Regions from separate parts of the Homo sapiens genome. Here region 1 is linked to region 2. Evidence: fine-mapped QTL for protein levels in blood plasma. A gene starts in region 2. The other region holds a variant in brackets. All regions are shown on one strand. Distances are between the middles of the regions.

Region 1 (16,591 bases), 26 kb after region 2:
TGAAATAATGCAAATGCCGCAGATTTGTTTTTAGCCTGAATTATACACTGCACTGATAGTATGGCCACACGGTGGCATTGCCGTGGCTCCTGAGCAGCAGCCCTGCCTGCTTGCCTCAATGCCTTGCAGCCAGCACTTGCTCAGCCCGTGGGACTTCTAACAGCACTAATGTTGGTTTTGTAGTTATTTTCCTTTTTACTTTTGTAATGATTTAACTTTTTTCACACCCTGTAATAAGCGTAATAGAAGCATTCATTAGTAACTTCCATAGTTAGAAAATTCTGGGTAACAAAATGCCCTAAAGGATGCCGGACATTGTCACAGTATGTTAGAGTGCTGTTAATTTGGAAGAGAGAACTATGAAAAAAAAAAAATACTGAAGATTGTGCTGCAAAAATAAAAGGCAGCATTACAGCAAAGTACACAATGGTGATTCTAGATGTATGTGCTTGGAAACAAATCTTTCCTATTTTATATTATTTATGTCTGGTTTATAACTAAGGGGACTTTATTCCTGTGCAGCATTGCTGTGTGCATGTACATCTGTGAAGCTTTATAAGTATTTGCAGTCGTGAAATAAATGTAACAGGAAATTCTGAGGAGTGGGGCTAAATCATCTTAAGAGCAATAAACATTGCCAGAATTTCTTTCTTTTTTTTTTTGTTGTTTTGTTTTGTTTTGAAATGGAGTCTCGCTCTGTCACCAGGCTGGAGTCCAGTGGCACAATCTCAGCTCACTGCTACCTCCACTTCCCAGGTCCAAGCGATTCTCCTGCCTCAGCCTCCCACGTAGCTGGGACTACAGGCGCATGCCACCACACCCAGCTAATTTTTGTATTTTTAGTAGAGATGGGGTTTCACCATGTTGGCCAAGATTGTCTCGATCTCTTGACCTCGTGATCCGCCCACCTCGACTTCCCAAAGTGCTGGGATTACAGGCTTGAGCCACTGTGCCCAGCTGCCAGAATTTGTTTCTAAGGAGAGGTATTTTTAAAATTATTCTTTTGCATTTTTAACCGAAAGAAATGCATAACCCTGGAAACACACTGTATGTAGGGCTGTAAGGAAATTATTGTAGAAAAGCTATTTTAACTATGTTGTGTCATAGTAGAATAGTCCCAGAAAGTTCTAGAATTGCAGAGCTGGGAAGAACCATATTGCTATCTAAGACAGATACCTAATTTTTTACTCAGATTTCCTAACTTCTGCTTCCTTCAGTGTTCTTTAAAACTCTGGCCCTATTCACTAATTTGTAAATCTATTCAAGAATGGCACTAAGACTTTTTGATAGATAATAGCAGTATTCCATCTTAATTGTAACTTGTGATTTCTGCCTTTTTTAAGGTTCTCTTTGGATTCCAGTTGTTGCTGCTTTACTACTCTTTCTAGTGCTTAGCCTGGTATTCATCTGTTTTTATATTAAGAAAATTAATCCATTGAAGGAAAAAAGCATAATATTACCCAAGTCCTTGGTAATGTATTTAATTTTTTTATATACACTAAAAAGTTAACTTGAACCTTTTTTGATAGTTTCTTAAATTATGTTTTTAAAGTAGAATGATATTCAACAAGATGTCACCTGCCATCAATCAGTCAGTCTACCACACATGCAAAATCACATACTGTGTCTTTTGCTGTGCAGCAAGTATTTTGTTTTTTTTTTTATTCTCAGGGAAAAACACGGTGAGACAATTCTGTTAAAGATCTTAAAGTCTAGGGGGAAGAAAAGATAAATATACATTGGCTATATAACGTGTGATAGATTCAAAGATTTATACCTGAGCCCATGAGGACTTTGTCCAGCTTTGGGGTGGGGTTAGTCATGGCTTTTCCAGAGGCAATGCCTGAGCAGTCTTGAGGGACATACAGGAGTTTAGGCACTAGGGGACAGAATGTGCTGAGGTCCAGAGCCAAGAAAGCATGACTTTGAAAGCTCTGCAAATACAGAAACACTTCATTATGGTTGGAGTATGAAAGGAAAGTTGGCCAAAAATGAGACTAACGTAGGAGTTTGACGATTTTAATGTCCAACATTTCAAAGCCTTTGATGTAAAGAACATTTAAAGGTAACAGAATAGTATCTATTTGAGTCAAATATGACAGGAATAATATCTGTGATGCTCAAAGGGCACATTAAAATTTGCTATAAACTACCTTTAAAGTGGATAAGAACTCTCAACAGTTAGTAGTCAACTCACAAATGAATTATAATATTTTATTCTTACTAGTAATTAAGCACAAAGTAACCTTGCAGTATGCCATTTTACACGCGCTAGAGAAGAAAAAAGAAACCTGGATATCCAGTAGTACCAGCAGTAGCATAACGGGTAAATGCTGGTGAAAAGTAATCTAGCCCTGGTAAGAATAAAAGCACACAGTGGGTATTCAGTGTAATAGTGACGTAAACATACCATTTCTTTGATATGGTCACTCCACTCTTAAAAAATGTATTATAAGGAAATAATTTCATAAATAAAAAGATGTACAGGATATTTAACATGTTCCATAGCTAGTAAAAATTGGAAACATTTCCCCATCTATTAAATTATTTATCAGTATAAAGAAATAATATGAGCTACTAAAAATTATAATGATGAAGGCAAGTAATGAGAATATTACTTAAGTAGATGTGCCCACTTTGTAAACATAATGTGCGTACATGTGGAAGATAATTGTATTAGGATTCTCTAGAGGGACAGAACTAATGGAATATATATATAAAGATATATATATAATACCAAATAAACTCCCCTTTATATAAATCTATATTTTATATATTATATATTATATATATTTTATATGTTATATAATATATATTATATATTATATATAATATATTATAAATTATATATTTTATATAATATATTATAAATTATATATTTTATATAATATAAGTTATATATTTTATATATTATATTATAAATTATATGTTTATATAATATATTATAAATTATATATTTTATGTAATATAAATTATATTTTATATAATATATTATAAATTATAAATTATATATTATATATTATAAATTATATATTATATAATATATATTAATTATATTTTTCATATATATATATATAAAGGGGAGTTTATTTAGTATTATTTAGTATTAACTCACACGATCAGAGGTCCCACAATAGGCCATCTGCAGGCTGAGGAGCAAGGAGAGCCAGTCCAAGCTCCAAACTTGAAGAATTCAGAGTCCGATGTTCAAGGGCAGGAAGCATTCAGCATGGGAGAAAGATGTAGGCTGGGAGGCTAGGCCAGTCTCTCTTTTCACATTTTTCTGCCTGCTTACATTCTAGCCATGCTGGCAGCTGATTAGATTGTGCCCATTCGGGTTAAGGGCGGGTCTTCCTTTCCCAGCCCACTGACTCAAATGTTAATCTCCTTTGGCAGCACCCTCACAGACACACCCAGGATCAATACTTTGTATCCTTCAGTCCAATCAAGTTGACACTCAGTATTAACCATCACAGTAACGTACAAAAAGCAACATATATTAGTAAGATATCTGATGGCTTTTTAAAAATTCTAAAACTTTGTTTTTAATATTACTATGGGACCTTTCATTAAAAAGAAATGGCAACATCTGATTCACCCATTATCCTAAATGTGCCATTTGGTGGTCCATTACTTCAGACCTTTGTTTTTTTTGAGGGTAGGCACTTAAGCTTAACAATTTTTTATCTTTAATCAATTTTTCTCCCCATAGATCTCTGTGGTAAGAAGTGCTACTTTAGAGACAAAACCTGAATCAAAATATGTATCACTCATCACGTCATACCAGCCATTTTCCTTAGAAAAGGAGGTGGTCTGTGAAGAGCCGTTGTCTCCAGCAACAGTTCCAGGCATGCATACCGAAGACAATCCAGGAAAAGTGGAACATACAGAAGAACTTTCTAGTATAACAGAAGTGGTGACTACTGAAGAAAATATTCCTGACGTGGTCCCGGGCAGCCATCTGACTCCAATAGAGAGAGAGAGTTCTTCACCTTTAAGTAGTAACCAGTCTGAACCTGGCAGCATCGCTTTAAACTCGTATCACTCCAGAAATTGTTCTGAGAGTGATCACTCCAGAAATGGTTTTGATACTGATTCCAGCTGTCTGGAATCACATAGCTCCTTATCTGACTCAGAATTTCCCCCAAATAATAAAGGTGAAATAAAAACAGAAGGACAAGAGCTCATAACCGTAATAAAAGCCCCCACCTCCTTTGGTTATGATAAACCACATGTGCTAGTGGATCTACTTGTGGATGATAGCGGTAAAGAGTCCTTGATTGGTTATAGACCAACAGAAGATTCCAAAGAATTTTCATGAGATCAGCTAAGTTGCACCAACTTTGAAGTCTGATTTTCCT[G/A]GACAGTTTTCTGCTTTAATTTCATGAAAAGATTATGATCTCAGAAATTGTATCTTAGTTGGTATCAACCAAATGGAGTGACTTAGTGTACATGAAAGCGTAAAGAGGATGTGTGGCATTTTCACTTTTGGCTTGTAAAGTACAGACTTTTTTTTTTTTTTAAACAAAAAAAGCATTGTAACTTATGAACCTTTACATCCAGATAGGTTACCAGTAACGGAACAGTATCCAGTACTCCTGGTTCCTAGGTGAGCAGGTGATGCCCCAGGGACCTTTGTAGCCACTTCACTTTTTTTCTTTTCTCTGCCTTGGTATAGCATATGTTTTTGTAAGTTTATGCATACAGTAATTTTAAGTAATTTCAGAAGAAATTCTGCAAGCTTTTCAAAATTGGACTTAAAATCTAATTCAAACTAATAGAATTAATGGAATATGTAAATAGAAACGTGTATATTTTTTATGAAACATTACAGTTAGAGATTTTTAAATAAAGAATTTTAAAACTCGTTTTTGTATTCATTTATTCAAGCACTTAGGCAGTCTTTCATAGTTAAGCAGAATATTTTTATATCCACTGCTTGTTTCCATGCATTAATGCTATAGGATTATTTGCTAATTGTTCATATTTAATATTTAAAACAACCCTAAAAATAATATTTTTAAATGGTCCTTATAGGTCTATATTTCAGTGCTTAACACCCAGTGTGCAGAACACTGTTCTAAGTGGTTTGAGAAGAAAAGATTTAGCTGTAGAGCATGTGGATTGAGGAATCTAGCATAAAGGTGGTGGGCAGAGCCATGGAAATGGATGGAACCTTGAGAATTACATGGTGTGGAAAGAATCCCCAGTGAGAGGCAAACCAAGAGTTAATATATATGTTACCCAAGGATTTCTTGGAATTACTAAGAGGATAGAAATATTCAGAAATTAATATGAATCTGTGAATTAATGGACCAAAAAAAATGAAATACAATTTACATGAGTAGCAAATCACATTTCTTTGGTTTCTGGAAAGATATTTCTCTTCACTTAAAAATGCAAATTACAAATGAGATACTATCAGTGAAAAAAGTAGTGGTGTGGTTTGCAGTGGAACTGGTATAGTCACTGATTTTAGGGTAATGTCTTGTAAATTGCTTTTCAAACTGATACCCCATACATATCACATTCCACAAAAGTAATATCCTTCAACAGACTTTGATCTCTCTTGTGGGAAAATTACAAAAAAAAAAAAAAAACTACATGAACAATGCACACATTAGAATGGGAAAAGCAAAAATATGAAAATAATTGAAATAGCCAAGGAAGAGGTAATACTTACTACCCTCCAAAATGATTATACCAATGTGTACTCCCATCAAATGTGAATGAAGTACCTGTTTTTACACCCTAGCTAATTGACTGAAATAAGTCTTTAATCTCGGTAAAACACTTTACACATTAAATGCATTTGCATTTCTTTAGTAAATTTGAGCATGTTTTTATATCTTATTTATAGTTTCATGCCAACTCATCTTGTTCTTTGTCCATTTTTTTATGGGCTGTTTATATCTTTCTTACTACCCTTTATCTGCCCTGAGTTACAGATTTATTTTATAATTTCCTGCCTTTTGACTTACCACACAGATGTTTAAGTTGTTTATAAAGTCAAATTTATTTATTTCCTTCTATTTTTAAAAAGCCCTTCCCCTTTCCCCAAAAGATAGAAGTTTTCACTCATGTTTTCTTCTGGTCTTTGGTGATGATTGTTTTACATTTAATTCTTCTATCCATCTAGATTTTTTTCCTTTGAGGACAGAGATAGAGATCCAGCTTTATTTTTTTGTTTTAGTTTCCTGTGGCTGCCGTAATAAATTACCACAAACTTGGGTGGCTTAAAACAACAGAAATTTGTTATCTCACAGTTCAGAGGCTAGAGGTCTGAAATCAAGGTTTCAATAGGGCCAGATTCTATCTGAAAGCTCTAGGGGTGGAGGGCCCCTTCCTAGTTTCTAGTGATTGTTGTCAATCCTTGATATTCTCTGACTTATGGCTGCATTATTCCAATTTCTGCCTCTTGTCACCTGGCATTCTTCTCTGTATGTCTGTGTCCAGATCTTTATAAGGACACCAGTCAATTGGATTGATTAGTCCCACTCTAATCCAGTATGACCTCCTCTTAACTTGATTACATCTGTAAAGACACTTTCCAGTTAAGATCACATTCATAGGTACCAGGGGTTAGGACTTCAACACATCTTTTTGAGGATACAACTCAACTCATATATTTCCCTTAACAAATTAGTTATCCCAAATACTATTCATTAAATTATCTAACTTTTCTATGCTGATTTCAAATGTCACATTTATCACATGCCAAATTCTCAGCACTCCTGGAACAGTTTTGTTGTTCAGTCTTTTCCCGTCTATGTATCACACTTTTAATACACATTATACTGGGATATATTTTATGTTTTTTTGAGACAGAGTCTAGCTTTGTCACCCAGGCTGGAGTGCGGTGGCACGAACATGGCTTACTGCAGCCTCAACCTCTTGTAATCAAGCAACACTCCTGCCTCAGCCCCCCAAGTAGCTAGTACAGACGCTCATGACCATACCTGGCTAATGTTCTGTATTTTTTTGTAGAGACAGGGTTTTGCCATGTTGCTCAGGCTGGCTTCAAATGCCTGTGCTCAAGCAATCTGCCTACCTCAACCTCCCAAAGTGCTGCAATTACAGGCTGTTTTGACTTCTGAGGCTTTCCTGAATACTTTCAGCCAATGTTCATTGCTCATATTTCTTAGCAATAATTATTTATTTATTTACTTACTGTATTTTTAGTAGAGACAGGGTTTCACCATGTTAGCCAGGATGGTCTCGATCTCCTGACCTCATGATCTGCCTGCCTCGGCCTCCCAAAGTGCTGGGATTACAGGTGTGAGACACTGCGCCCTGCCAGCAATAATTATTTTTTAGGTGAACTATAACCTAAATTTTTTGGCCAAGTTTTCCCCCAAATTTTAAACTCCTTTGGGATTTATGTTGGCATTGTTTTGACTTTATAAAATGTTTAGAAATAACTAATATTTTCAAGGGTTGAATGTTCTGCAAGAATGGAGACTATTTCTGTCTTCAAGTCTTACATCCCTCATTAGAGGTTTACTTCATACAGGTGTAGAAAATTTACTAAGTGTATTCCTTGATATTTTATGTTTTTTGTTGCCTATGGGAATGTCATCTTGCATTGTGGCTCCTGAATGGCTGTCTATATGTACACGCACACACAAACTATTGTTACAAGTTGTTTTTGTATCTAGCCAACATCTAAACTGTTTTTTCTTCATGGTTTTTAGTTGATTGGTTTTCCCAGTGTACAAACGTGTTGTCTATAAATAAGAGTAATCCTGCCTTCTCATCACCAATATTATATTTTGTTTTTTATTCCCTTGTCCTCAAACTTTGATGAATTGGTATACGCTATTTTCCAAGAGTGATTGACCAAACCTGGTGGCTGTGGGCAAATCGCTTAGCCTCATGAGAGGGTTGGATTACATTCTCTCTATCTTTTGGCTCTTAAGAGTCATTGCTTCCATTTGTGTTAATTAGTAAGAGCATTGGCTGGGTGCGGTGGCTCATGCCTGTAATCCCAGCACTTTGGGAGGCCGAGGCAGGCGGATCACAAGGTCAAGAGATTGAGACCATCCTGGCCAACATGGTGAAACCCCGTCTCTACTAAAAACACAAGAATTAGCCATGCGTGATGGTGCATACCTGTAGTCCCAGCTACTGAGGAGGCTGAGGCAGGAATCGCTTGAATCCAGGAGGCAGAGGTTGCAGAGAGCTGAGATCACGCCACTGCACTCCAGCCTAGTGACAGAGCAAGGCTTCGTCTCAAAAAAAAAAAAAAAAAATTAAAGCATCATCTTTCCAACACAGTTTTGTGTCTAAACTTAATTTTTTTTCCCCTACTTATTTCTGGTTACCAGAAATTCACGTTATTGAACCATTATTCATGCCAAGTTAAATTGTCTTAAGATTACTGCCTGGGTCCAATTTAAGGTACCACTTCTTATGCCTGATAAGGATATAAGTGGATGACTTAGAAAATAAGTGCCAGCTTTGTTTGTATAGTCATTAGTTAGCTTCATTTATGAGATGCAATACTTACTCTACCTTCCACCGCCCTGCAAATAATAACTGGTCTCTCCATTGGTACTGTTACAGGGCTTTAAGGCTTAACCACGTACCCCAAGCTCTCTTTGCTCCAGTATCTCCTCTGCCCAGGAGATAAGTGTCAGATATTTAATTGAGAGGAAAGAGTGGCAGAGATATGTTCTGACTAGCACATTCCCAGAGTGTCCTTTCTAGAGCTAATTATAAAATGTTATAATACCCACAATGTATCTCCAAAATTAAATATTGAGCAGATATCTACCAATAAAAGGTGAGTAGTAGAGAACACTCACACATTGGCTTCTCAGACAGCCTTTTTAAGGAAAATTCGTGGAGCTGAACAACACAGGTATGTAGTCAGACTGGATGTCAGACCCCAGCCCTTGGGCTATGGGACATTTTTGCTACATAACCAGAGATGTGCCAGTCCCTTTCCTGGTATAAAAAGAGGTGAGGGCCAAAGGGGTCAGTAGGTACTTCACTCAATTCGAGGGGCCTCTGATCCATCTGAGGTGAGGCCACTTTTATTTCACTTCTGACACCATCTTGTGAACCTAAATAACAGCAAGAGTCTCTCTAAAAGAAAATAATATTTGAGAATGGGTCTTGCAATGAGAAAATAGTAAACTGCCTGTGTATTCAGGGAGATAAAGGAAGACAAAAGTTTTTAAAAGAAAAATGAAGATGACCTAATTGTATTGAGATAATTAACCTTTACTATGTAAGCCAAAAATAAAATTGTAAGCCCTCCCCACCTCAAACCATCTAAACGGACGCCCCCTCTTGGCCAAGCGCATTGTAAAGTTAACCTGAAAAACTAGTTCAGGCCATGATGGGAAGGGAGAGTTGGATATAACTCAGTATACCCTCCTCCCTTTTGGAACTTAGGAAAAGCTGACCAGCATTAAACTTACGTCTGATAAGAAACATTTTCAATCTATTCTCTCTGAAATCTGCTACCTGGAGGCTTCATCTGCCTGATAAACTTTGGTCTCTACAACCCCTTATCATCATAACCCAGGTATTTCTATTGATTCTGGGTCTTTGGGTAACAACATAACTCTTTCAACAAATTGCCAATCAGAAAATTCTTAAATCTACCTATAACCTGGAAGCCCCCACTTCAAGTTGTCCTGCTTTTCCAGATTGAACCAGTGTACATCTTACAGGTATTGATTGATGTATTATGCCTCCCTAAAAAGTATAAAAGCAAGTTGTACCCTGACCACCGTGGGCACATGTCATCAGGACCTCCTGAGGCTGTGTCATGGGCACATGTGTCATGGGCACATCCTTAACCTTGGCAAAATAAACCGTCTAAATGTATTGAGATCTGTCTCAGATACTTTTGAGTTCACAAATTGGTGATGAAGGGATTCTGAGTGGAGGTGCCCCTGACCTTTGATGAATCTATTGGTGCTTGGTACCAGCTTGAGCTATCCTTATGGCTCAAATCAGAAGGACAATTTGCTGAGGCCTGGGAGTTCCCCCTCCAGAGAATCCCTGATCTCTCAAAATTTGGTCGAGATCTAAAGCTTATTTTGCTCTACAACTCCTTTTCTGGAGTTTTACTTGATTCCAACAAGGAAAGCAAGTTTTTCTGCTTCCATGATGATGCATAGCAGGTAACTCATTTCTGGAGTTTCAGCTAGTTTCCGATAGGGAAGGCAAGAACCTTATGTCTGTTCCTGTGCACCTTTCCAGGTATTTTTCCTGCTTCTAAGATGGTAAAGAGCAATCTTGTGCCAGGGCTCTATTCCTAGGTAAGTAGCAAGAATTGGGATTTTTTTGTCTTGGAAATTCTCCTTAATGACTACAAGTTGAAATTGACAAGCAGCTGGTTTTAATTTCTCCTTACCGTTAGAGCACTCAGTAATCATATTGTTGGGGTTTTTGTTGTTCTGATCTTTCTCCCATAGGATTTGATCAACTATAACAGACTTGGTCAAATTCCAATGAGAATTCCAAATTAGGGGAAACAAGGCCTCTGAATTGGCTAAAATTCCTGGCAGCTGCACAAACAAAAACAAAAACATGTGCTTGGTTTCTGTGTTCACTTCCTTTCTTAAAAAAAAAAAACAAAAAACAGTTATTCTTCTGTTTACTTTTGTTCCACTCTATTTTTCCTTCCCCCTTCACCATCTCTGGTACCAAGAAAAATCTACAGAAGGGTTCTAATGTCTCAGACCCCTTAAAGAACTCAGAACAAAGGCACCACTCCCACCCCCTTTTGGGGTGTTCTGTTTTCTTTGTGGGGTTTCAAGAGTCATGGGCAGATTCTTCTTAGATTTAAAACTCTGCTTTCCTGTATTGCATTACCTGACCCTCTTGGCTTTTGCGGGCACCAGAGATTACCTTGTACTGTGAGAAGATGTGACCTTGGAGTGTGTAATGGCAGACAAGAGCTATAAAGTTAGGAGTGGCTGAGGACAGTTTACAGCTGGTCTTAGCTTTTTCCACCCCGCTGCCCCCACCAATGAAGTTGTTGTTTAGGATCCTAATTCTAGTTCAGAGGTGCATTCTAAAGAGCTTTCTCATTGTCTTCTCTCCCAAAATTAATCTCGATTGGCTTGTCTGTGTATTTGTGAGAGCAACTAAACTGTTGTTTTTGTAGATAAATGTCAGACTGAGTTTCCTAAGCTCTGAAAAGAAAGGGCATTTTGCTCCTTCCAGCCAAAAGGCATCCCTGGGTTACTGGGGTGGAGCCTAAGGGGTTGACTACCAACCCCATGAAATGCAGCCGCCCTACAGGGAACCCCCAGCAAAATTAGTTTAAAAAGGTTCATCCAGGAAGCTCATGTAGGAACTCCATGTTTTGAGCACTCGGAGGTCTAAACCTCCAGAGAGAGAAACTGAGATACATAAGAGGGTGGCAACGACTCACTGGTGACACACTGTGGAGCCCCACCCAGAATCAGCATATTTTGACCCACTAAACTAAAACTTAGGCCACAGCTCAGTTCCTCCTTTTAAGAAAATATGTGGGGAATAAATTAAGGATATGGAAAAACAAGAACAAGGCCTCTCAGGCACCTCATTTCGTTTCATGGTGCCTCTACTTGCAAGTGGTTGTGTAAATGGAAGGGCGTGCCAGGTTTTCTAATACTCCAGCTGGTTACACATTAGGTCTGTTCTTGTGCGCATTTTAAACTGATGGGCAAATTACATCAAGGAAAATTCAGAACCTAAAGTTCAACCTGCAACTCTAAAGTTCCTAAGTTCTCTATCTCTGTTTTCTTTTCCACCTGCTTTGTCTGCTATTATTAACACATTTCTACTGAGATAAAATCCACTGTTTGCATCCAACCGTTTCTTTTTGTTATTGTTTTTGCAAACTGGTAAGTTTATATTAATATCTCATAGCTAAAATTTTGAAGTGAAAGCAACAGGATCTTTGTATGAGTGTGTATATGTGTGTTTATGTGTACAAACATGTATTTTATTATGTGTTTTTGGCCACAAGGTACTAAAATGGCTTAAAGTTGAAGGGTACTCATACATTAAACAATAAGCCCAAATGCTTTTCAAGGTCATGTGACAAGTAAAACCTTTTATAAATAAACTGGCTTAAAATTATTGGTCAAGTAATATTAGAAATGTCTTATAAATTGTCAACATATATTTTTGTTTGCATTTATTGATCAGCAATTTCATACTTATCCCTGACAAATACTCTGTGTCAAAATTTGACATAAAGTTTATAAAACTGTAAACCCAACCGTTATGGTTGGATCTGTATCCCCACCCAAATCTCATGTCAAATTGTAATCCCCAGTGTTGGAGGAGGAACCTGGTGGAAGGTGATTGGATCATGGGGTAGTTTCTCATGGTTTAACACCATCCCCCTTGGGGCTGTCATGGTGATAGTAAGTTCTCATGAGATCTGGTTGTTTAAAAGTGTGTGGCACCTCCCCAACAACCTTCTCTTCCTCCTTCTCCAGCCATGTAAGACATGCCTGCTTCACCTTCACCTTTCACCATGATTATAAGTTTCCAAGCAAAAGCTGCTATGCTTCCTATATAGCCTGTAAAACTGTAAGCCAATTAAACCTCTTTTCTTTATAGATTACCCAATTCCAGGATTTTTTAATAACAATGTGAGAACAGACTAATACACCAACCCAAAACAGAATGATCTTTGCTTGTGTAGTTTTTGACAAACAAGATATCAAATATTGTTGGTTTAATGAAAACAGCTAAACTTGGAATTATTGGTAAAATAACCATATATTTAATCCTGAGGTTCTTACTTAGGTAAACACCTGAACTTCATAGGCTATAAAAATCATTGACAGGGAAATAACTTTAAATGATGACTATCACAGTTTTCATAGTCTACATAAAATATTAAAATAAAATAATCAGGTAAATGTAAAGGGATAAATACCTGTAAATAAACTTGTCATAATTTAGAATATAAAATTATATTAAATTCAATAATAGATATTTAATTAAATATCTGGGTATTTTCCAATTCAAAAAATTATATTTTATTCTTTTTTTAAAATATGTTCTTATTAAAAGGTAAATAATTTTTGTCTAATTCAAAGCTTATTTAAAAGTCCTGTATAAATAAGAATGTGAAAGGAACCAGGAAATAGACCAATATAAAGAAAAGTATAGATATACAGAGGTATTTTTGGTAAGAAAGCTTAAAAGAAAAGTAATTTTGTATGAGAAAAATATTGTTTGGTGAATTTTTGTCCTAAGATAAAATGACCGAGTTATTCCAGAAAGAGTGACACTTAGGTCAAAGCAGAAAGTCCAAGCATGTTGTGAATGGTCTGTGTAAGTCATAATAAAGTTAGTAAAAAAGAAATTTATACAAATGTTATGTGATTAAGTTGTCCATAATTACAGAAAATTATAATCTTTTTTTTAAATTGAACTTTTATGTTAAAAATACACTAGACTGGGTGCGGTGCTCACGCCTGTAATCCTAGCACTTTGGGAGGCCGAGGCGAGCAGATCATATAGGTCAGGAGTTCGAGACCAGCCTGGCCAACATGGTGAAACCCTGTCTCTACTAAAAATTAAAAAATTAGCTGGGCATGGTGGCAGGTGCCTGTAATCCCAGCTACTTGGGAAGCTGAGGCAGGAGAATCACTTGAACCTGGGAGGCAGAAGTTGCAGTGAGCTGAGATCGCACCATTGCACTCCAGCCTGAGCAACAAGAGCAAGACTCTGTCTCAAAAAAAAATACACTAATAAATAACTAAAGATTTGGTTAGAACAAGATTTTATTTAAAATATTGAGTTACTCAATGCACAAAGTTTTTAATTTTTAAATTCTGTAATGTTTCTTTTTGAAATTATTCAAATTGATATCTCAGTCCTTTTTTCGCTTTTGAAAAGGCCTAGGATGGTAACTCTCTCCTTCAACTTTTGTTTGGCCTTATAACTTTTTTAAATTAATAATCTAAAGTAGGGGAGAGAATTTTTGAAAAGAGGCAAATGAAAAATCTTTTGGACCTGCCGTTTTCTATATGTCTGTTATATCTACATGTTTACATGTGCCATGTGGAAGTGATATTTCACTAACAAGTGGTACAAAAGAGCTCTAATCAATTGGCTTGGAGAATGTTAATGCTTATCAGACTGATGGAACCTAGCTCAGATGCCTTTTAGCTCACATGACTAGTAATCTTTGGTAAGATTAATTTGGTAAATTTAATCTCAATTATTTCCAGTAATTTAAAATCTTAAAGTCATGTTATGTTTAAATTAAGTAAACCTAGGTTACTTTTTTCCCCCACTGGGGATTTGGGTTAATAAGTCATGTAATGTTTAAATTAAGTAAACCTATGAGTTTTTTTTCCACTGGGAATTTGAGTTAATAAGACTTAAACTAGTAGGTGAATAAAAGGTGTTTTTGGTGAGGTTTCTGAAAACACAAGGAACTAGTTTTTGCTAAAGAAAATGTAATTTTTTTCTAGAGACTATTTATGAATCACTCTAAAATAAAGGAAAAAATTATATAGATAAAACTAAATGGATAAAGAAAAAAATAAAAGGGTGTGAAATGAGAAATCCTGACTCTTGAGTAGCCATGTGGTTGCCCATCTTAAGGAGCTGCAGCTGGGCTATAGTCAGTTACTAAAAGTAAAAGTTACCAGTGGAATTAGAGATGGATCCTACTCATACTCCCAGGGAGTTAGTTCCCTGAATGCATAAGGGAAGGCAAGCTAATAAGGAAGAAAAATGTTTCATCCTTTGGTTATTATCTGTAAAAGCTGAAATGAGAGTAAAAGAGTGTTGGGTTGGTCCTTAAGAGTGGACCAAGACCAGAAGTGGGTCTGTCTCAGCTCAAGCCTCTAGCATCCAAGCTACTCACAAAAATATAAATTAAACCGGGGCAACAAAGTTTACCTCTGAGACCTGTGGTTACCAAGAAGATAGTAAATGTAGGGGCAGGGCAAAACAACTATTAAAACCAGAGGCTATAATGTAAAGGAATTGTTCCATTTTGTAGATTGGTATAGTCAGCTTCCTGAGACACTTTTACTATAATGGATTTAAAAATAACTAATTTAAGGATAGAATCCTTAATTTTAAATGCTACAGAGTGAAAGAGCTTCTTTAGTTTGATCCATGACCCACAGCTCACTATTAAATCTCTAATGAGTATAAGTGATCCAAATGCATAGGAGGTTATTCCTGAGAGAACATCCAACCCTAGTGGACTGGATAAATGCCACTGTAAAGTCTGTTTACCCCAAGAAAGGGACTGCCCAACTCTCCCTATAAAATGCCAAGTGGAGTAACCCAGATGAAGCAGTAGATATGATTCATAAGCAAGCCACATGGTACTGGCTTTATGATGACCAGGATATTCTCCCACTTTATATGCCTATTACCCAGGTCATGGTAAATTTGGGGGTTAAAGAGGTCCCTTTTACATAGGCATCCCAGGTGACATTTCTCCGACAGAACCATACAATTGTTTGACAAGTTGTATCAAATTTGCTGTCCCTTGTGGGTCTTACAGATCCTTAATAAAATGTTGAGGTAATTTAAAAAAAAATGAGAAAGGCAAAAGAGAGTCAAAGGAGTCGCCCCAGAAGGGTGATAGAAATCTTTGGATGGTTGTTAAGAAATGAAATAAATAGAATGGAAATTGAGGGGGTTAAAACAAAGGTATTTAAAACACTATTTGTCCAGATTGTAAAATTAAAAAAAAAAAATCAAAAGCCAAAAGTTATAATGAGAAAGCTGACATTGCCTGGGTGAGTAAAATGTGAACCCAGAACATTTCTTTCCCTTTTGTTTCTGAGCTTTCTTGTTCTCAGGTGTTTTCTAAGGATGGGGGAAATTGCACCCCACCCTTCAACCCCCCATTGCTCTCAGGGGTCAGGAACATCGGCCTCAGTCCAACCCAGTCTTTTCTATGGCATTTTCCTTCTTTTTAGGGGGATTGTAATGGCACCTATCTTTTCTTTTACAATATTGGGGGTGTTCCACTCCCAACCCAATGGCCATAGGCACATGTGTAGGATGGATAGGAAGACAGCATCTCCCCATTCCCCCTTCCCTCCTGGCTGGGGTGCATGACTGTCTGCTGCATGTGCATGTGGTGTCCAACAGCCATCCAGTGCAGGATTGAGCCACAGCTGCTGCCCCAGCCCCAGGGTGATCTCAGGGGCCTGGGCCCCATGCAGCCAACTGGCCAGTGTCCCCTGCCATGTATCCACAGAGTCTTCCCCACCCCAAGCCAAGGGGTCCAGCTCAGTGCAATAGCAATTAAGTTTCTCTGCCTGTTGGAGAAATACATTTGCATTTCTCAGGCATATTTTTCTTTTCTCCACCTTGTCAGCAGTAAACACAGCCCTGCATTTAAGCTGTTGTTGTTGTTGTTATTTTCTTTTGTCCACCAAGTCATGAGTTAGTAGGCTGGTGTGAAAGTAGTTGTGGTTTTTGTCATTACTTAGAATGATGGGCACCACAATTGCTTTCGCACCAACCTAATAACACAGCCCTGCGGGTAGAGGGGTCTTCTCTGTGCCAGAAGTTTTCTTCCTTTTGGAAGGCATCTTATTAGACCAGGACCCTAATTCACAGGACACCATTTTCCCTCCCT
Region 2 (16,591 bases):
TACAGAATAGGATAGAGGTACAATGACTGTGGCTGGCCCGTGCAGGACCTAATAAAAGGCAAAGCCAGGAGAAGCACAAGCTGACCGTGCTTAGATTTGTCACATGCAATTATTGGAATCTAAAGCTGTAAGCACGTTTTTCAAAAATACAGTCATTGCTTAGTAGTCCATAGGAAAATACACACTTTCTAAAAATGTCTATTTTATTTTCTCTACCACTATTCAGTGGTTGCTAGGAGCCCAAAGTGAGAGTAGAAAGTGGTTTCAAGATTCAGTTCAAAGGTCTCCTCCTACTCTAAAAAATTTCCTAACCACTCCTCACCACTTTGAGTAGAACTCACTGCTCCTTGTGGCGTTCTTGCCAGAGCTGGCCCAAACTTCCATTACAAGTCAAAGAAATAAAACTGTGATGCCCTTTTTAGTTTACAAATCTCTCCCTCTCTCTTTCTCTCATTTGCTATTAGAGAATAAGCTCTCTTTAAATCACAGAGGAGCAGGGAGGTGATGTAGCAAATAATAACACAGCTAACATTTATCTAATAACACAGCTAACGTTCATCTAATAACACAGCTAATGTGACTTGTCAGGCAGAGGACTACAGATTTTTCATAATTATCTCATTTCACCTTCACAAAGATCCGATGCTGTGTACATTATTCTATCTCCACTTTACAAGTAAGGAAACTGAGGCACAGAGAAGACAAGTCCCTTGCCCTAGATCACATGATAAAGCAGTGGTGGTGTGACCCCTAAATGCAGGCAGTCCAGCCTCGGGGACTTCATGCTCGATCACGGTGCTGCACAGTCTCACTCACAAAATGCCTGACTGACTAAAGACTGTCTTGCTCACTCCTAACCAGCAACTAGGATTTCTGTGACAAAATGAACCCATTTCTCAGATGATACATTTCCATGCAGATACAGTTATCCTCTATGTAATCTGGAGTAGTAAGAAATTACATTTTCATTTTTGTTTGATTTCTTGTCCGAAAAGACATATTATAAATTTTTCATTCACACAAATGGAGTGTATTTCAATTCTCTTTTTAAAGGTCTAAATGTTAGCAAGTATACATTCTTTGACCAAAGTATTGGTTGTTATAACTTGATGATGTAGGGGACAAGAGATTCTTTTCTCACTCACTGTTAGGTTCATGGCCAAGGCACCTATAACAAAAGACAGATTAACAAGAGAAGCGCATACAAATGTATTTAATATAAGTGTTTTTTTATGCTGAGGTTTGACGAAGAGTGGGCAGCCATGCAGAAGTGTGCTTGGAGGACAAAAGGCTGTGATCCAATGGTCATAAACTGAGGGGAATTTAGCAAGCCTGCTTGTAAGCTACTTCTCTGTGTCCCTGTGTCATCAGAGATTAAAAAAAAAAAAATTCCTTCCTTCCTGACATAGAAAGGGCACTCTGTAATGTGGCCTTATGACCTCTTTCAGATAAAGGCCCAAGAATTTATTTTTGAGATGGAGTCTTGCTCCCATCACACAGGCTGGAGTGCAGTGGCGGGATCTCGCCTCACTGCAACCTCCACCTCCCAGGTTCAAGCAATTCTCCTTCCTCAGCCTCCTGAGTAGCTGGGATTACAGGTGTGTGCCACCACACCTGGCTAATTTTTGTATTTTTAGTAGTGACGGGGTTTCACCATGTTGGCCAGGCTAGTCTTGAACTCCTGACCTCAGATGATCCACCCACCTCAGCCTCCCAAAGTGCTAGGATTACAGGCATGAGCCACTGCGCCCGGCCCCGATATTTCTTTTATAACCTGCTTCAGGGGAGAAGTGTGGGAAAAAGTCAGAGAGTCACCTTCTCACTTCTGCTGTTTCTCCAAATGCCTAAGTACCATATTTTCGGGTAGCATGTTCTAAATCCCATCATTGACAAATGCCTACAAGTAAGAACCAAAAAGGTAACAAAAATCAAGCTGCAGAGTGTAAGACAGTTGAGATGATAGGCGTGTGGTTCAACTGTGGAATTGTGGGCCATAGAGACAATATTTTTACGTTTCTGAACAGTTAGGGTTTTCTGAGCCCATTTTACTGAATCTTGGAATCTAAGCTAAAAGGACAAGCCTGGTGTTAACTTCGAAGTGATTAGTGAGAATGCCAGAGAAATTTACCTCCCCAAAGATACCTGCGTTTTCATTTCAAGGAAGAATTAAACCCCCAGGACCATGGAAACATCTCCTGGGATGTAAAGCCAGAGACACTAGTCTCATCTTTCCAGTGGGGAAATTTATTTACATTCCAAAAGCTAAGCTCCCAGAATCTTTCTTTCTGTTCCCAAGGAGAATGTGTTTATACCAGGGAGCAATGGATTTCTCGTCTTTTCTCACAGCGGGAGGGGAAAGTTGGCCCTTTCTCCTATATAAATGCCCAGATTCATTTTGGAGGGTGTCCTCACTTACAGTAGACACCATTACATATAGGATGACATGTGCAGCCTACATGTACATCTGGGTCTCATTGCATAGCCCCAGAGATAAGAACTGGGACAAAAGAGAGCTGACAAAATTATTTGCTGTAAGTAAAAAAAAAAAAAAAAAAGAAAAGTGTTCTGCTCTAGAAATCTAGTATTGGCATTCAAGATAATCACATTAAATATAGATACTTAAAACTTAACAGGACTACGTGCCCTGCCTAGAACCAATGAAAATGGAATTCTCTCTGCTGGCTAAACAAAACACATCTGTTGGCTGAATTTAGGCTCTGAGCCTGCCTTTTGAAAAATGAGCCATCATACCATGATTTGAAAGGCACCCAAAAGACCCTTTTGCCCAAGGCAAACTATCTTATTGTATCCTTTCTTGTCAAGACCTCCAGTGTCACCACTGGACACATTGGTTCTTCTAGTTAAGAACTGTTCGAATGTCAAAATATCTAGGAGTGTCCACCCCAAAATGGTTATCAAATATTGATGTCAATAAATTAATTTGTTCAATTTGTTCATCTATCATTACCCAGAGCCATCTAAGAGCATCTGCTACGGAACCATTGACCTAGATGTTGATGAAAGATAAGGATGGAGAGACACTTTCAGCTGAAGCCTTGTGAGCTAGGGAAGTTTTTGGTATTCTCCAAGTAGGAGGACTCTGGGCTTCTGAGAAGCAGCAAGAAGTCACTGGGCTTTGGTGTGTGGTGAAGGAAGTACGGAGACTGGAGGGGGAAGATGCACTGAAAGAGGAAGTATGAGGCTCTGAGGACAAACTGCATGCTGCTTTAGATTACTCAGTTCTTTTTAGCAACAGTTTTTTTCAGCCTGGTGTTTAGTGTTATATTGGGAAATGTTTTCTAAAAGAATAGGGTAGCTGCCCTTTATGATGCTGAAATGGCCAAAAATTTCATGGCTAGAAATGAAATTCATTGTGCTTTTTTTTTCTTTTTCTTTTTTTTTTAAGACAGAGTCTTGCTCTGTCACCCAGGCTGGAGTGCGATGGCACAATCTCAGCTCACTGTAACCTCCGCCTCCCCAGTTCAAGCCACTCTCCTGCCTCAGCCTCCCAAGTAGCTGGGACCACAGGCGTGTACCACCACACCCACCTAATTTTTGAATTTTTGGTAGAGATGGGGTTTCATCATGTTGGCCAGGCTGGTCTCGAACTCCTGCCCTAGTGACCACCCACCTCAGCCTCCCAAAGTGCTGGGATTACAGGCGTGAGCCACCACACCTGGCCTGTTGCGCTCTTTTAGTTGCAAGGAACAGAGACATTTAGGTTACCTTTAGTGACAAGGGATGTTGGTGAAGATGTGTGGGAACATCAGAAGAGGAAAGCCTCGCCAATGAGCTAGTGCCCAGGGAGCACAGTGAGGGAGCACTATTCGGGGCACATGGCAGTTCTGCTAAGCCTCTGGCTGCTGGGCCTCTTGTTCTCCCCTCAACAAGTGATCTTCTTTGCTTACTATTCTAGTCTTCTACATCCTGTACTTGAGTTTGTTGTTTCTTCTTTTCTCCTTTCTCCCTTCCACTCAGTCATCCTCTTCTCCATCATGGTTTACATTCCAACTCTCTGAAAGCCAATCTATTTAGGTTGGCCTGACATTGAGTAAAAAAAAAAAAAAAAAAAAAAAAAATCTGCACGATTAACAGAAAATCGAACTGATGGTGACTTAAATCAACAGGGGTTTATTTTTTTCTCCCATAGGCCAAAGGCAGGTGGTCATAGACATTAGTTCAGAAACTCAATGCTGACGATGATTCAGGCTTTCTAACTTCCTGTTCTTCCACTGGTAGCTGTTGACTTTTCATCTTCAATCTTGTTGCCTCATGGTTGCAAACTGCCAAGATCTGCTGCAGATCTAGGCGTCACTGGATCTACATTCAAGGCAAGAAGATTGGAAAAGGGCCAAGGCCAGCAAACTCTCCCATTGCATCTGCCCCTTCTATGAGAAAGGAAAAGTTCTCACAGAATGCTTTCCAATCCTCTTCCCCATTATACACCTGATGACCACCACACACACACATGCCTCACAGACTTCTGCTTGTGTTTCGCTGACCAAAACTACATCATATACCTACACTTAGCTGCCAAAAAGGCTGGGAAAGTGAGTAATGAGCCTGTCTAGCCTCTGCAGTAGGGAGGCAGCAAGATAGAAGGGGACCGAAAAGAGCTGTTAGCAGTCAGCTAATGAGTAGTATCTGCCACAGTCACCACGCAGCATGTGGCATCTACCCTAGGCAGTGCTCTAAGACAAGCCAACTACTAGAATACTTGACTGTCTATGGATAAACATCTTCAAGCCAGGGGTTGGTCTGATACAATCGGATGTCAGCATGAGAGCTAAGAGGAGGGTTGAGTGCAAGGCAAGAGGATAGTGCTTTGTTGAGTACCAGTATGATATCCAAATATCTCTCTAAATTCTTATCAGTGACCCAATTATAGCTTAGCCAGCCATAAATTCAACTATACCTGCTTCAGTCCCACACCTCTTTACAAGCTTGTTTTGTTCATCATATATTTATTTAATAAGTGGCCACAGACATTGGTTCAGCTGCTCAATGCTGACAGTGATGATTCAGGATTACATACAATTGATGATTCAGGATCATCAATATTCCATAAATATTAATGGAGTAATAGGCACTTGGCTAGGTGCTCGGGGTCTGACAGTGAAGAAAACAAATTTATTTTTTAGAGGAAGAGGGAGACTACTGAAACAAAATTTTCTACGTGTGTATATACATATTTTATGTATGCACACACACACGGATGCATTTCATTAAATCTCAGATTAAGTCCCTGTTTACGCACCTATAATCGTGTTGCTCTCCTTGGTAACAATTACTACAATTTCAGTAATTATTTGTGAAATATATATATATATAAAATGCATATATTTAACACATACAATTTATTCATATTTAATTCAAATTTAATAGATATATTAAATTTCCAGTAGAATCTCCAGATAGTAGTAAGTACTATGGAATAAACAAAGTTAAATAAGGGCCAGTGTAAAGGCATGGGTAGAGTGTGAGAGGGCAAGAGTATTGGCTATAATTTACAGACTAATCAGCGGAATTTAAACTATATGCTTCAGTTACAAATCTTCACGCTGTCTCCTTTAAAGGGAAGCTGGCAGACATTTCTGCTTTGGAGAAAAGAGGAAGGAAATGCACTGTGCTCAGAGCCAAAATGCACAGTTTGTTCCACACACACAGGCTCTGTTCTCATTGGATCATATTTCTAGCTTCTTAAATTGTTTTATTTGGCCTATTAACTTGAAAGGCAGGTGAGTATGGTCTTCAAAATGTAGCCTTGCTCCTGAGCAGCAGCACTTCAGTATACACTTGGCTTTGGAATGATCTACGCTCCACCCCAATTTGTTTTCTTCATTTTAAAAACTAATCTGAGGCTCTAGTGGGGACCAACGTATACTTGGATATTCCCCAGCCATTAGGCATTGGAAATTTATCAAGGAAAGCTGGCACCGCTCATTTGTTTCTGTGTTAGCTGTATGAGATTTTTATATGGGATTTTAAAATACAGTTTATTGCTCTTCTTCCTACCTCTCTTATTAGCCGGTGGCCACCCCCATCTTTTAACTTTATTCAGGCTAATTTTACCTTATCCTTCAGGTCACAACATAATGGTAACTTCCTTAAAAAAGAATTTCCCTAAATCCAGACACAGTGGCTCACACCTGTAATCCCAGCATTTTGGGAGCCTGAGGCAGGAGAATCATTTGAGCCCAGGAGTTTGAGACCAGCCTGAGCAACACAGCAAGACCCCAGCTCTATAAAAAATTTAAAAACTAGCCGGGCATAAGGCCAGGCGAGGTGGCTCACTCCTGTAATCCCAGCACTTTGGGAGGCCAAGGTGGGCGGATTGCTTGAGCTCAGGAGTTTGAGATCAGCCTGGGCAACATGGTGAAACCCCATCTCCACAAAAGACACAAAAAAATGCCTGTGGTCCCAGCTACTTGGGAGGCTGAGGTGGAAGGATGGCTTGCGCCCGGGAGGTGGAGGTTGCAGTCAGCTGAGATTGTGCCACTGTACCTCAGCTAGGTGATACAGTCAGACCCTGTCTCAAAAAAAAAAAAAAAAATTAGCCAGGCATGGTGGTGTACACCTGTAGTCCCAGCTATTTGGGAGGCTGGGGCAAGAGGATCATTTGGGCCCAGGAGTTTGAGGCTGCAGTAAGCTATGATCATGCCTCTGCACTGCAGCCTAGACGACAGAGTGAGACCCTGTCTCAAAAGAAAGAAAAAAGAAAAGAAAGACTTTCTTTAAAATGTAGACTAAGTTAAATTCCTGTTTATACTCCTTTAATCTCTTCCCATTGCTCTCCTTGGGAATGATGATCACGATTTCAGTACTTGTGTAATTCCTTGTTTAACAGCTATCTCCCTCAGTAGACAGTAAGCTCCGTGAGGGCAGGGGCCATGTCTGTCTTGCTCAGGTCTTTATCTCTGTGCCTGGTCATGTCAGTCACAGACAGTATCACTTGATAATATTCACCCAATTAATAAATATATTTAGTCTCCAAATGACTAACTAGCAAAGTCTTCAGAAGGATACGTAGGGTGGTGGGTGCTGTGATTGTGAAACTTGCCCAGATCCCTCTCAGGAACAGAAGACTGGGTTCTGTCCCCTTCCTGATGCTAGGAGGGCTGCCAGTAGACACCCTCAACCGTCAGCGTTCCTCTGGGGAATGCCTCCATGAAAGAAATGGACAGCCCCAAAATCATGACAGTTGGTATTCAATGACTAATCAGTGCTGGGCTTTAAGACCCAGCCCCTCATACCAACTCAAGACACCTTTACAAGGCCATCCCAACTCCAGAGCGCCCCTTGGGAGCCTTTACTGGGATGGCATCACAGATCAACTTCTTCCTCCGCTCTGCTTCCTCCACCTCCCCTTCACAGACGTTTATTCCAAGAGCACTCCCTAATCAATCAATGCCTTATACCTTAATCTCGACCTCAGAGTTTACTGCCAGGGTAACCCAGCCTGTGACAAGTACCACAAAAATGTTTACAAACTGGATATCATATTTTGTCCTACTCCATAGACGCCTAAACGGTAAAGATCAGTTATTTATCCTTGCATCCTTACAACGACTAGAAGGTGTCTTTCATATAGTGGACATCAGAAACACATCAAAGGAAATATTCTCCCTAAACTTAGTCTAGATTGAGCTAAATTCTTCTGATTCAAAGTGTGGTCCTGTTGAAAGGGGCACCAGCATCCCCTGTGCATTTTGTCCGAAATACAAAATCTCAAGACCCAACCTGAATTAGAACTACTGAATCCAAATCTGCATTTTATCAAGATCCCCAGATGGTTCACATGTATGTTGAAGTTTGAGAAGTACTGAGCTAAGAGATTTATTAATACAAGTAAAATGATCTGGCTGATAATACCTCTAGTTTATATAGTGTCTTTATAAGGATTTTCCCTCTTTAAAAATTTTCCTTAACACTAGTAATCATGCAGTCTTTCACTCAACAAATACTAATTGAGTGCCAAGTAAAGATGTCAGCTCTACGGAGCTTACATTTTAGAAGGAGAAGAAAACAAATATCAAGGTGTATATTATAGTGTACAGCAAGGTGAAAAGTGCCATGAAAAAACAGTAGGGCGGGGTAAGGAGGAGGAGAAGGTGTGTTGCAATTTAAAATTTTTAACAAAAGTTCATGATACTCAGAGAATTGAAACAGGTGAGATCATTAGACATTCGCATGTTTGAGCACAAGCGCTGAAGGACTTAGCAATGTGGCTGCAGTGGAATAGGAGAGATGCAAAATAACAGACAAACCCAGAGAGGTAAGAGAGCAGACCTCTTCATGAGAGGCTGCCTGATAAACTGATTTGACACTGAATTGCTGAGAAGGTAATGCAAATAGTTTTTTTCTCCAAGAACAAAGTAGTTCTTGGTCAAGCCGATTTGATTTGGGCTGTGGGAATCTGCACAAACCATTTCACTAGCTAAGTCTCAGGTTCCTCAAATGAAAAAGCAGGGACTGGAAATGGCTTTTGAAGTCTCATTCTCTTCTAAAAATGTCAGGCTCCAAGACAACCAGGTGAAGTCCAAGAGTTAGTAAAATAAGGATTGTGGCTCGGCTGTGGCCTAATGCAAACTTGCACAACCCCAGGAAACCGAAAAAAACTGGAAGAAGAATTGCAGAATGGGGTGCCAGGTTGAAAGACCTTAACCTTTGCACTCAAATTCCTCCCACACCCAGAAGTCCAGGTCCCGACCGCACGACGCCGTGCTCACTGCTGGGTGCTGCGCCTGAGTCCGCCTCCTGCGGCTTCCCGGACTTGACCCCGCCCACGCCCTGGTCCCGCCTCCTGCCGACGCCGGCACAGACCCCGGTGACGGAAGTGACGTAAGGCCGGGGCTGGAGGGCAGTGCTGGGCTGGTCCCGCAGGCGCTCGGGGTTGGAGCCAGCGACCGTCGGTAGCAGCATGGCTCTCCTCTTTCTCCTACCCCTTGTCATGCAGGGTGTGAGCAGGGCTGAGATGGGCACCGCGGATCTGGGGCCGTCCTCAGGTACCGTCGTTCGCGGCAGGGCTGCGGCCGGGTCGGGACGAGAGGGAGGGAGGGATCCGCCCCAGCCGGGAAGCCCCGCCCCGCTTCTCCGAGGTCGCCCTAGCCCGGGACCCCTGCGTCGGGCCCTGAGCGGGCGACGGGGACGCGAGGTGGGGTCGCGAGACTGGGGCTCCGTGGTTTGAACTCGTCGGTTGCCTTTCTCCTGCCTCTTCCCTGGTTGCCGCCACAACAAATCACGCCGCTTGTTTTTCCGACTCTTGTAATCCACTTTTAAATACGATTATGCGCTGCAGAAGGACGTTGCTGGTCAATGTGGGACAGCGTGGTCTCAAAGATTATAATATCGTCTTCTTACTGTACCTTTTTTTATGGTTAGATACGCAGATACTCACTAGTATGCTACGGTTGCCTGCAGTGTTCAGTGCAGTGACAGGCTGTACAGGTTCATGACCTAAGAGCAGTAGGCTGTGTCATCTGGGTTTGTCTGGGTTTCTACTGCCCGAAGAAATTGCCTAAGGGGACATTTCTCCATTTCTCAGAACGGATCTCCATCGTTAAGTGACGCATGACTGTGAGTGTCCTGATCAGCATGTGGCATCGTGGTCTCAGTTCGTGGCTTAAATACTTCTTTCTTAGCGGGGGTGGGGGGGGGGACTCAAAGTGCTTAGGGTAGGAAAGTATGCATTATGTCGCCAGCTGAGAAGTAAGTGGCAGCTGAGAAGTAAGTGGCAGTCCGTCTTAGGTCTCAGTCTGGAAGTGGTGGATTGCCGGCACTCACTAGCAGATTTGGCAGTAGGTCTCTTCGTACGGGTTTGTTCTTCGGAGCATTTTATTTCCACCTGCTTATTGACATTTCCTAGAAAACAAATGTTGAGGGTGGCTTTTCTGAAGTGCAGAGTAATTGTGATTACGAGCTCCAGAGAAAACAGTAAACCTTTTCAATTCAGTTTTCTTTTTTTTATTATGATTTATGATTCATAGGGACTTTGAAAGGTCCACGTTTTGGTTCTGTGTTCACAACAATCTTCTGGAGTAGGCGTTATTTGTCTCTCTCTTTATGGACGAGAAATTGAGTTACGGAGAGGCCTGCCCAACTGGCAGAGAGGTCATAGCCACTCAGTGGGGAGCTGCTCAATTTGGCTCCAGAGTCCAAGTTCTTAACTGCTCTTCTAGGCTCTAGTCAGTCATCCACATGGGCAGTTGCAGTACTTTGCGGTAAGAGCTTGCACTTAGGCACAGACTAGTGGAAAGCAAGGCGGGGTGCTTGTCTCTTTTAGGGAAGTCAGTGAAGACTTCACAAAGGTGACCCCAGTGTTGGAACCAGAGGTGCAGAGACTGAGGTGCAGAGGTGTGATAGCATGTTGAATTCGTGGAATATTAAGCGTTCTATTGTAAAGTGTGTGTGAGAGCTTACAAGGGGAGGAGATAGGTTAGGTGGAGAAGTAGGAACCAAATAATGAATTGCCATATTATGTGTACCAGCAAGAAACCTAGCTTTATTAACTTAAGCAAAAAGAGGAATTTATTGTCTCAGAAAAACCAGAGTTAAACAGAAAATTATAGATGCCAGCTGGGTCTCAAGAGGCTAGAACCAGGAACCCAAACTGCTAGGACTCTCCATTTCTTATTTCTGTCTGGGTATTGACAGCTTTCCACACTTGGCAGGAATCATGGATGCTGACAGCTTCTGAGTTTTGACATCTTGCAGCCTCCTCCATTCTAACAAAATGCCAGGGAAAGGCTCTGATTTGCCCAGCTAGGTTCAGGTGCCAGCTTGCATGGGAAGGACATTCTCGTAGAGGGTTGGGTTGGGTTACCAGAAGAAGCGGAATGGCGTGCCTGAAGTACAGGTGTTGAGCCAACAAAATAATACACCCACTATGCCTTGCTGAAGTCAGTCATTATTTACTAATGCTGACATCATTGGATTATCAATTACAAAGGGAAATGATTTTATGCAGGATCAGACATGCCATTTAGAAAGACCAGTCATCTTATAAAATAGTTTGAGGGTAAACACAAGGCCCATTAGGAGGCTGCTGCTTAAGTTGGAGTCGATAAGTAGTTTAAGTGGAGAAGAGGACAGTTAGCAGAACATTTAGAAGGAAGAGTTAGTAGGCCTCTGACTGGATGTCAGCAGAGAAAGAGGATAACGCTAGCGCAGGCATAGCGTTAAAGCAAGTGCCAGGCCCTTCCTTCTGAATACGGGGCCCTATGAGTGCACCGTGTGACCCCTGTGAGTGCACAATTTGCACGTCCTTGTAGCTTGCTCTGGGAGGAGGATTGCCTGTCTGCCTCCCGTGGGAAGATCAACTGCAGCCTTCTATATTCTGCAGAAACTTTTGAATTTGTCTCTGTACCTCTCGTTCTAAAACTGGGGTCACTTTTGTGAAGCCTTTCCTGACTCCCCTAGAAGAGACAAGCACCCCGGCCTTGCTTTTCATTAGTTTCAGTGAGCCCTCTTTTTAAAGTGCATTTCTAACACATTTCTCTAGATTTTTCAGTGCATTTCTCTAGATTTTGTTGTGTTCCCTGTTCTTTTAAAGTTAATTTAAAACACAAAATCTCCAAAGTAGGAAGAAACCAACAATGCTCTGGCTCTTGCTTAGCTTCCCAGCCTTATTCTTACTGTTGCTGGGCTTGACTCTATAGTTGAAGTTCATCTTAGATGAGAGGACCTGGTAAGAACAGGGAAGCAGACAAGTGAATATGGTGATATAGTCAGTCTCCAGGAAATCCAGGTGTTTAGGAATGTATTGTGTTACATTCATGGGCTTTCATTAATACTTCTTAAGTGAAAATAAAATCTGTGTGTGCCACTTAATCAGTAGTATTTCACTCTTCATGCACTTTTACACATAAAAGTAGTATATATTTTTAAGTGAATCAGGGTGTGCCACTGGCTTTCTTCATCCAGATGAGTGTCCCACTCTGAGTAATAGCTGAAGAGCTAGGCTGGACTTCACACCAACTGGAAGGCTCTTCACTGACCTTGTACAGTTTATCAGCTATGCTTCCTACTAATTATCTGACTTTAGGATAAAGCTCTGAGTACTGTTTAAATTTTTCACTATTTCTTTGGATTCTATAGTTATTTCAGAGATTCAAAATACACAGGATAATACTTTTTAATTATATTTATTGAATAGGGTATTAAATTTTCTTTTTCATTTTATTCTGATTCATAATTCACACAGACTTTGAAAGGACCATATTTTGGTTCTATCTAAAAGAAAACCTAGGCTGGGGGCAGTGGCTCATGCCTGTAATCCCAGCACATCGGCGGAAGGATCACTGGAGCCCAGAAGTTCAAGACCAGCCTGGGCAACATGGCAAAACCCATCTCTACAAAAAAATACAAAAATTAACCCTGTGTGGTGGCATGTGCCTGTAGTCCTAGCTACTGGGGAGGCTGAGGTAGGAGGATCACTTGAGCCCAGGAGGTCTAGGCTGCAGTGAGCCATGATTGTACCACTGCACTCCAGCTTGGGCAACAGAGCAAGACTCTGTCTCTCGTGTTTGTGTGTGTGTTTGTGTGTGTGTGTGTGTTTGTGTATGAAAACCTAAAGAAAAGTAATAAACAGCTATCTTACAAAATTTGGCAGCATACCAGTAGTGAAGTTGCTTTACAAACCAGATGAGTAATTAATGGTTCAATTTTGATTGAACAAAGAATCAGAATGAGGTTTGAACCAGAATGAAGTGAATTCCTAACAGAAAGGAATTTACTTGTAATTTTCTTATTAAAGGGGTGCCTTTATTTTAGATTATCCTAATGCATAGTAATCAGAATACTAGGTATCTGTTTAGGTCTTGTGTATTTTTAAGAAATTATTCATTTTAATGCATTGTTCAACTTTTGCAGTGGCCATAATATAATTGTGATAATGTAATAAAATCAGGAAACATTACCTGAAGCAGATGCTTTTGAAGTCACCAGAAAATAGTCTTCTCCAATTCCAATTTAAATATGGAGGTAATTTACCCCTTATTTTATTAAACGATCACAAAGATGTTGGAAGCATTTTTCTTAATGAAAACCAACAAAACTTTGCATATTGTCAAGTTACGTAACTTCTCTAAGCCTTTGTTTTCTCATTGGTAAAATATGTATGGTAACATTGTCTCCCTCACGGGATGGATGTGATGAGTATCTGAGGTAATGCATTAAAAAGGTAAGCACACTGTGTGTCTTGTAGTAAATACTTAATATGTTAGGGATTATTCAATAATGTGCATTATTATTTTAACAAATATATCTTTAAATATTAAATTCCCTTAGTCATATGTGAGAAATTGTGTTGGCTTTTAAAAAAACAAACTTAACCAGATCAGTATGAGAAACTTAAAACAGGCTCAGCAGCTAACTCATTCTTCCATCTCTTCCAACAGACAAAAAAGTTTGGTTTTTTAGTAGACTGGAAAGGCCTGCATTGTTTTTTCATTTCCTCAACTGTTTTTCAATTCAGAATGAGTTAGTCCAAAAGAGAATTAGTGTTGAGAAATGACTTCTCTCAGGGACTAGATTGGTCTGGTCCAGTCAGAACTAATGCCAGACCAAACCCAACTAGATGAAATTGGATAAATAGGAGTAAGAATAAAGCCCTGGATTTCAAGTCAGAAAAGTGGCTGAGCAGATATTTATTGGATAAGCCCCAACTTGGTGGTGGTGCGAGGGAAAAATATAGGGGAGGTTAGTTACTTACAAGTTCACTGCAGGCCACTATGTGTTATGCCTGGCTCTTTAAAAAGAAAAATTTCAATTAGAAGATTTCAATGAACACTTGAAACATCACCTGCAAGAATTATCAAAATGTCTGTACTCAGCTTAAACCTGGGGGATGCGGCTCCTTGCTACGGTGAAAGTTGGAAAGCATTAAGAAAAATAGTCATTTTATCACCACTGGAAGCCATTCGGGAGGGAGATTGTAATCAAATATGTTCTGACAAAAATACAAAGGCCTTGATTTGGTACTTTTCATTTATTCAGTGTGGATTTCTTATGCTGGTTCTGTTTGCTGTGCAGATGAAACCTTTGTGACAGTCCCCATTCCTGTCCCTGTATCTTTAACATGGGGAAGGTGTTAGATCTTCTCTGAGAGTTGTTCTTAAGGAAAAGATCCAGATGCTTTAATTTGAAACATTTGTTTTTGAGTTGTAGTGTCAGATGACTTAGAATCCAGAACAACAGTTTACTTCATCCTCACTTCCTTATGCTTCTCAGCGTGCTCTTCCCATGAAGAGGTTGGTGAGCAGGTTGTCAGATGATTTCTGCAGAGTCCATAGCCCTGTTCCACCATAGATGTACAAACCTTTTATACAGTCTTTTTACACTAGTGTGTTAAGATGGGTGATGAACTCCTCGGGCTGTCCTTTTTTAAAGAGACACAGATGCTTTTGGTGGTTACAGGATGGACTCAGGTAGCAGCCCTGGTTCCTGTCACCCAGCTATGCAGAGGAAATGGCCAGTGTCTTCAGACTATACTCTGCAGGTATCTGTAGTTTGCCATCCACCCTACATTCACCAACATTTATTGCAGAGCTATCACGACTGCTATTTTTTGGTCCTTTGTGACATTGTTATGGTCCCGTCGATAGCACTGCTCTGTATCACCTGCTGATCTTCACTGGTCTTTTGTGTTGTCTCTCTTTTTTCATATCCTGTCTCTTCTGGCTTATCAGCTTTCTGAGGAAACAGTTGGCTTTAACCAGGGCCCTCCTTTTTTTTTCTGCATTGTAATTAAAGTGTTAGGAAAAACAAATTCTTCTCTCCTGTGTTTAGTTTTCTTAAATTATCAGCTGTGAGTTGTAGGGGAGTTCTGGGAATTAGATCTTAAAATAGCTAAAGTTTACTCCGGATAGTATGCAGATGTAATACACTAAATAATTCTGAGTCCATTTCCAAAAGCAACATGAGTTACACAAAACTATCTTGGCATTTTCAAGAGATGGGAAAATCTGTAAGATTATCTTATTTCATGAAATCACTCTGGTAAGATCTTTTCTTAAGCCCCAGAGATAATAATACTCTTTTGCTGTTTCTACATATATTTTTATTTACATAGTGTAAATGTATTAGAAGTTAATTGTAAGCCTTAATTAATTTAATCTGAATATATAACAATTTAAACCTCACATTACAAAATTCTGAAGCTTAAGAAAACTGCTTATGTCTGTCATATTATTTTGGCAAATAATATTTGGCAAAAAATAATATTTGGCAAAACAAAGGCAGATGTCTAATAACCACACAGTTTCTCCTCTGGTAGCATTAAAAACCACAGATTACATCTTTTGGTGTAAATTTATAAGTTTTTCTTTTAACCTAGTAGTAATTTCTTTTTGCTATAAACCATTGAAATATTTTCCTCCTACCACCTGTCTGTCTTGCTTTGAAAGCTATGATTTAAGTCCTTGTCCTAGTCTAACCATATCAGGCTTTTACTTAAATTATAGGAAACATACTTTGATTCACGTTAAAAACTAATCTAATGCTGCACAAGCCTACTCCTGTTTGTAGTTTTCCATTGTGTGATTCAGTAGCCCCTTCCTAAGTACAAATGCACTTTGTTTGATATTCTAGTATGCAGATTGACTTCTATATGCCTTTTTCTCACAGGAATTTCAGGTTGAGCGTATACCATTATAAAGCCATTCCTACTGGGTATAATTAAAAAGAGAGCCTTAGGCTGGGCCCGGTGGCTCACACCTGTAATCTCAGCACTTTGGGAGGCCCAGGTGGGCGATTCATGAGGTTGGGAGTTTGAGACCAGCCTGACCAACATGGTGAAACCCCATCTCTACTAAAAATACAAAAATTAGCCATGTCTGGTGGTGCAAACCTGTAATCTCAGCTACTCGGGAGGCTGAGGCAGGAGAATCGTTTGAACCCAGGAGGCAGAGGTTGCAGTGAGCAGAGATCATGCCATTGCACTCCAACCTGGGCAACAGAGCAAGACTCTGTCTCAAAAGGAGGGGAGTGGAGCTTAAAAGGAAGCAAAGGATTTCCAGTCTTGGAAACCTAGAGGAAGGGGGGTCCTTGCTATGTAGTGGCAGAAAGCTGAGTGACACTGTAGCCTTCAGTGACACCAAAAGTAGAGAATGTCTGAGGAGCTGTGTGATCTAGCTCAGGAGGTTTCTAACCAGAGTGCTGAAAGTGCCACCTGGTTTCTTCTTGCGTCTTATAGTAACAGGTGAGACTTTGCTCAATCATGGGAAGAACTGTTAAAAAGAAACCAGGACCACCTGGTTTGAAAATTCTCAGCCTCTCGAGAGGCAAAAAAATGCCAAAATGAAGAAATGGTCTCCGAAGGAAGGCTCAGATTTAGTATGAGTTTTCTTAGCATCAAGTACCTCTGTTTTCCGGTTGAAAAAGTATATTTATATGTGTGATTGTTATTTGATATTAATGTTGATTGAACCCAGGTGAAGAGGAATGACTTTTATTTCTACCTAAAATATGGATTGTGAAGTATTTGAGTTGTTTCAGGAGGTTGAGATGCAAACGTGTGATAGAAAAAAGACCCTCTTAAGGAAGCCTCAGTATCCCCTGCTATGAATGGCCATGGGAACTCTACAAAAAACAA

What was found. PIP is the posterior inclusion probability: the model's chance that the variant is causal. The UK Biobank Pharma Proteomics Project read protein levels with antibody pairs (Olink). The fine-mapping took linkage between variants from a reference panel, not from the people measured, so its PIPs are less certain.
Region 1: its variant is fine-mapped to the plasma level of the IFNGR1 protein (UK Biobank, PIP above 0.99).

What each region holds. Positions count from the first base shown.
Region 1 is chr6:137,185,761-137,202,351 of GRCh38, reverse strand. It overlaps IFNGR1 (interferon gamma receptor 1), which reads left to right. Exons shown (of 7, transcript NM_000416.3): 6 at 1,344-1,471; 7 at 3,713-4,867. The coding sequence ends at 4,321. Among named protein-coding and RNA genes, the nearest start is that of IL22RA2, 20 kb to the right of the region's middle. The variant G/A (reference allele first, on the strand shown) is at 4,362.
Region 2 is chr6:137,211,657-137,228,247 of GRCh38, reverse strand. It overlaps IFNGR1 (interferon gamma receptor 1), which reads left to right and starts at 8,863. Exons shown (of 7, transcript NM_000416.3): 1 at 8,863-9,005. The coding sequence starts at 8,921. RefSeq lists enhancers at 424-513, 8,393-8,642, 8,493-9,223, 10,664-10,723 and silencers at 8,683-8,912, 8,953-9,172, 9,633-9,682.